2 separate regions of the Homo sapiens genome follow, and region 1 is linked to region 2. The links come from fine-mapping of genetic effects on gene expression. Tissue or cell type: visceral fat. Region 2 holds a variant in brackets; the other region holds the start of a gene. All regions are shown on one strand. Distances are from middle to middle.

Region 1 (2,630 bases), 74 kb after region 2:
GAAAAAGAAGCAGGTCTGAAAGAGACCAAGACCTGGAACGTCTACCCCAGAGGTGGTGGTCCTAAGGGGTTCGGGGAAGGAAGGGGGTGCTCTGAGGGGAAAACAGGCATTGCCGTGGGGGGGGGGGGTCTGGTCTTGTCTCTTAAGGGAATGCCCAAACCACACCGCCGCCTCTCTAGAGTGAGTTCCCAAGAGCAAAATTTCCACCTTTCCAGGAGAGGCAGCCCAGAAGAAGGCAGGGGGCGGATTTACAAGCAGGCAGCTGTCCCTCCCCACGGCACCCACCTGCAGATCTCCCACCCGAGTCCCCTGCGGAGGAGCCTTGTGTGTGTGTGTGTGGGGGGGGTTGGGGAGGTGGGAGATCAGCTAGGTTGGACACTTAAATCCTGAGGTCCAGAAAAAGTTCTCACCTTCATAGAGATTATAGGGACAGGAGATTGAGGAGCAGACAAGAGAGGGGCGAGAAAAGGTGAGACGGAGGGGAAAGAAGAGTAGGGGAGCCAGGGAGGGTGGAGAAGGAAAAAATGAAAAAGGAACGGGGGTGGGAATAGATGGGGGGACAGAGAAAGGGGTGAGAGGAGAAAGAGTCCAGGAGGAAAGGGAGAGGAGGGTATGGGAGAGGGAGGCTAAGGAAGAGGGATGGAAGAGAACTATGAAGGGATGAGGAGAGAATGAGCAAGCTAGAGAGACCAGAGAGACGGCAGAGACCGATACCAGAGAGACGGGCAGAGACTGAGACCAGACGGGGACGGGAGAGACGGGACGGAAAGCAGGGGCAGGAAGAAAACGCTCAGGGAAAAGAGGTGGAGGCGCTCGGAGCATCCCCGTGGGGCGCTGGTGTAGTCAGAGCAGGGAGCGAGATGGCCGGAGGGGCCGGCGCTGGCCCTCACCACGGGGCCCGGGCGCCCGGCGGCGCTGCAGACCCGATCTCGGCCCCGCGCCCCCAGCCCCGGCGCGCTCGCCTTACCTGGCCCTTGACCAGGCTGGCTGCGAACTGGCGCATGACGGCCTCCACGGTGTAGGCGCTGGACCAGCCGCGCGGCGTGAGCAGCTCCATGCAGATGGCGCCGCCGTCCAGCACGTAGCCGTTCTCCAGGCGCGGGCTGAGCACCCGCATGAAGGGCGGCGAGAAGGGGAAGTTGTCGGGGAAGGTGAGGTTGAGCAGGATGAACTCGGTGTTGGTCTCCTTCATGTCCTGCCACAGCACCGAGTCCTTGTCCACCTGGTGCAGCTTCACGTTCCAGTCGAACAGGCTCTCGTCCACCAGCTCCACGGAGATGAAGCGGTCGCTAAGGCGCGCGATGTCCTGCAGCTCCTTCATGAGCCGCCGGCTGCGCACCTGCGTGCAGTGTTGCTGGCGCGCCGCGGGGACCAGGCTGCCGCCCGCCGCCGCCGCCACCGCCGGGCCCGGCCCCGCCCTGGCGCCCGCTGCCCTCTCGCGGGGGCCCCCGGCCCCCGCCGCAGCCGCCGCCGCCGCCGCCGCAGCCGCCGGCGCCTTGTCGCGCGGGGCCAGCTCCGCCGCGCGCTTGCCCTTTCCCTTGCCGGGTCCCGGGCTGGCGTCGCCCGCGCCCCCGGGGTGCTGCTGCTGCTGCCACTGTGTGGTGTGTGTGTGCGAGCGTGGTGTGTGTGCATGTGATGTGTGAGTGTGGTGTGTGGTGTGTATGTATGTATGGTGTGAGTGTGGTGTGGTGTGTGTGTGAGTGTAGTGTGTGTAGTGTGTGGTGTTTGCATGGTGTGTGTGAGCATAGTGTATGAGTGTGTCGTGTGTGAATGTGTGATGTGTGTGTGGTGTGTGTGGGGTGTGAGTATGGTGTATGAGTGTGTGGTGTGTGTGCATGTGTGTGCTTGTGTGATGTGTGAATGTGTGATATGTGTGGTGTGTGTGTGGGGTGTGTGAGCGTGGTGTATGAGTGTGTGATATGTGTGTGCGTGTATGTGGTGTTAGTGTGTGAGTGTGTGGTGTGTGACTGGGATGTGGTGTGAGGGTGTGGTGTGTGTGTGCTGTGTATGTAATGTGTGTATGGTGTGTGTGAGAGTGATGTGTGAGTGTGTGAGGGTGTTTTGTGTGTGGTGTGAGGGTGATGTGTGTGGTGTGTGTGTGTGGTGTGTGTGTGGTGTGTGTGAGTAGTGTGTGTAATTGTGTGTAGTGTGTGGTGTGTGTGGTGTGTTGTGTGTGAGCGTGGTGTGTGTGCTTTGTGTGAATGTGTGGTGTCTGAGTGTGGTGTGTGGTGTGTGTGGTGTTTGCATGGTGTATGTGAGCATAGTGTATGAGTGTGTAGTGTGTGAATGTGTGGTGTGTGTGGTATGTGTCGTGTGTGTGGTGTATGAGTGTGTGGTGTGTGTGTAGTGTGTGTGCATGTGTGTGCTTGTGTGTGGTGTGTGAATGCATGATATGTGTGGTGTGTGTGGGGGTGTGTGAGCGTGGTGTATGAGTGTGTGGTGTGTGTGTAGTGTGTGCGTGTGTGTGGTGTTTGTGTGTGTGTGGTGTGTGACTGATGTGGTGTGTGTGTGGTGTGTTTGTGGTGTGTGTGTGAGGGTGTGTGTGGTGTATGAGTGTGTGGGAATGTGTGTAGTGTGTGCGTGTGTGCGGTGTGTGTGATGTGTGTGTGATGTGTGTGGTATGAGTGTAA
Region 2 (2,630 bases):
AAAAAAGAAGAAAATACAGACACATGGTACAGGGGGTGAACTTCGAAGACATTGTGCTAAGTGAAATAAGCCAGTCACAAAAGGGCAAAGGCTGTGATTCCACTCCTGTGAGGTCCCCAGAGGAGTCACGATCTTAGAGACAGGAAGTGGAATGGGAAGTCTGGGAAGATGAAACATGTTCTGGAGCTGGATGGAGCTGATGGCCACGCAACAGCGTGACTGTGCTTGGTCCCCCTGAGCTGTATACTTCGCAATGGTTACCATAGCACATTTTATGTTATACATATTTTATTAGAATAAAAATACAATTTGAAATGGAGAAAAGAGGGTAAAAAAAGCACCAGACACTAATAAAAGCAAAAGAAAACTCAAACCCCCCCACCCGAATCTCACTTCAAAAGCCTGGTGGAAATGCTTTCTCTGGTTCCCCTTCTGCGAAGGGGACGAGGGCAAATCCACAGGGTCATGTAGCAAGGGTGTCAGGAGCAGCTTCCATGGGGCAGCAGCTGAGCCAAGGGCACGGGAGGCGCCCCCACCCGGGCCAGCGTGAGGGTCAGAGTCCTGCCCACAGGTTTGTGGGTGCAGCCACCAGCGCTGTCTAGAGCAGGCTGAGCCAAACGTCTAACTTGGGGCCACCCACAGCCTGAGGGCCAGGAAGTGCTGCCCTGAGAGGGACCCGCTGGAATGCTGGAAGGCGGTTCCCTGGCCATACTTTATTTCCTTCAGTTTCAAACACTCCCAAGTTCACCCCGACCTCCCATCCCTGCCTCAGCCTGTGTGGACTGCATGCATCCTCCCAAATTCATGTACTAAGGCCCCAACCCCCAGTGTGACTGTAGGCAGAGAGTTGGCCTTCATAGGGAGGTAATAGGGTGGGTCCCAGGTGCAGTAGGGCTGGGGTCCTTGTAGATGGAAGAGACATCAGAGCTCTCTCTCTCTGTCTCCCTCTCTGCCATGTGAGGACACAGGGAGAAGGAGGCTGTCTGCAAGCCAGAAAGAGCCCTCACCAGACACGCCCCTGCTGCCACCTTGTTCTGGGACCTCCAGCCTCCATCTCTGGAAAAATAACTGTCTGTTGGGTGCGCTGCCCGGCCCGAGGTACTCTGTCATGCAGCCCAGCAGACGAACACAGCGTTCCTTAGTGCTTTCTGGTTGAAAGCCACCGGCAAACCTGCACTGATTTTGGGGGAAGCACAAGCCCTGCCCGAAGGCTCGAACACCCTCCTGCGCTTCCGTTTGATCTTCACAGTCCCTGTTCTGACCTTGTGGGCCCTGCTGGGTGCAGGTCTAATTGCTGCCCAGACCTAGTGAACAGGTGGTGTGCTGCGGGCCCAGCCCG[T/G]GCACCCCCACAGAGCAGCCCTTGCCGTCCCCTTCGTTATCTTGCCATAAGGCTTGGCTCCTGCCTCGAAAATGCGTCCACAGCCTGTGATTAATCATCTTTCCCCTAACCCAATCATCTGTGAGCACAAAGCCCCCTCCCCTCATATTCTTTGGATGAGCCGAGACTCTGTAAATGGGTCTTGTATCTGAGAGACCTCCCTCTTTTGTCCCATCCCTATCCCCTATCCCCTGTGAGGTCTTCACCTCCCCACTACTGCTGAGCTGGCATCCTGCCCCTTGTCAGTACAGACCTCAGACCTACAACTGAAACCCCTCAGATCCCGAATTCTTTGCTGCCACAACTTGCTCGGGGGTTCCAGAGCCACCCCTGCTGGCCTGCGTGACTGCCTCTGCTGGGAGTCCTCTGAGCCTGGCTCAGCCTCTCTGTTTCTGCCCTGCGGACTCTGCTTTCCCTCCTTACAGACGTCCCTGCTGTTCCCAGCATGTCTCACACCTACATCCATCTGAACCGTTTCCCTCACTCCCCTGTATCTGGAGGTGAGTCCTTGGGGTGTGTGGGCTGTAGGGGAGGCATCTCACCACGAACTTGTCTCCTGTCCCCACAGATCCCTACAGATGGACAACGCCAGGGTACAGGAACCACCTCAAGCCCAGGGTCAGCCTCGGGCCTCAGCGCCACCATGCTTCTCTGGATTTGGGATCTAGTCTTCTTCTTCTTTTGAGGTTTTTCCTTATCTTTTTGTGAGCCTAATCACACATTTAAACAATAGGCCTTTCTAGATGCTTTGGAGCCTTTCCAGGCTTTGGAGAAGAGGGTTTCCAGCCTTTCTAGGTGCACTGGAGCAGCGGGTTTTCAGAATAACTCCCTGGATATTACAGCAGAGAAACATGGACCAGGAATTAAAATCAGTTCACTTCATGTGGTCCCAGTAGCAAATGCCAGCAACAGTACCTGCGGCTGCGCCACCCTGACCTACACGACAGGTGTCTGTGTTAGCTTTGGCAGCAGCTTGTCACTCTCTGATCCCAGAGCTGCATCTTCCCTGAATTATAGAAAAGGCCGCTTAACTTCTATTTGTGTAATCAGGATGCAGGAGTTTATGTTTATGTTGTTTAAACTTCACCTTGCTTGTTTTGGCCCAACATTTGCACCTGGCAAATTTGGTCTCTGAACCTTCATTCTGCAATATGTGGTGTTTGCCTCCCTCTAAACACAGATTGTCTGCAAACCTCATGAGAAGCCCATCCATAGCTTCACCCAAGCTATCAGCCAAGGTCTGATTGGAATA

What was found. PIP is the estimated chance that this variant, and not a neighbour inherited with it, causes the effect.
Region 1: UBE2QL1 starts here. The variant in region 2 is fine-mapped to the expression of UBE2QL1 in visceral fat (GTEx, PIP 0.94).

The regions. Positions count from the first base shown.
Region 1 is chr5:6,447,585-6,450,214 of GRCh38, reverse strand. It overlaps UBE2QL1 (ubiquitin conjugating enzyme E2 QL1), which reads right to left and starts at 1,356. Exons shown (of 2, transcript NM_001145161.3): 1 at 968-1,356. The coding sequence starts at 1,321. It overlaps LOC105374639 (a long non-coding RNA gene), which reads right to left and starts at 878. Exons shown (of 2, transcript XR_007058679.1): 1 at 1-878. RefSeq lists a silencer at 1,324-1,393.
Region 2 is chr5:6,521,172-6,523,801 of GRCh38, reverse strand. No RefSeq gene overlaps it. Among named protein-coding and RNA genes, the nearest start is that of LINC01018, 60 kb to the left of the region's middle. The variant T/G (reference allele first, on the strand shown) is at 1,340.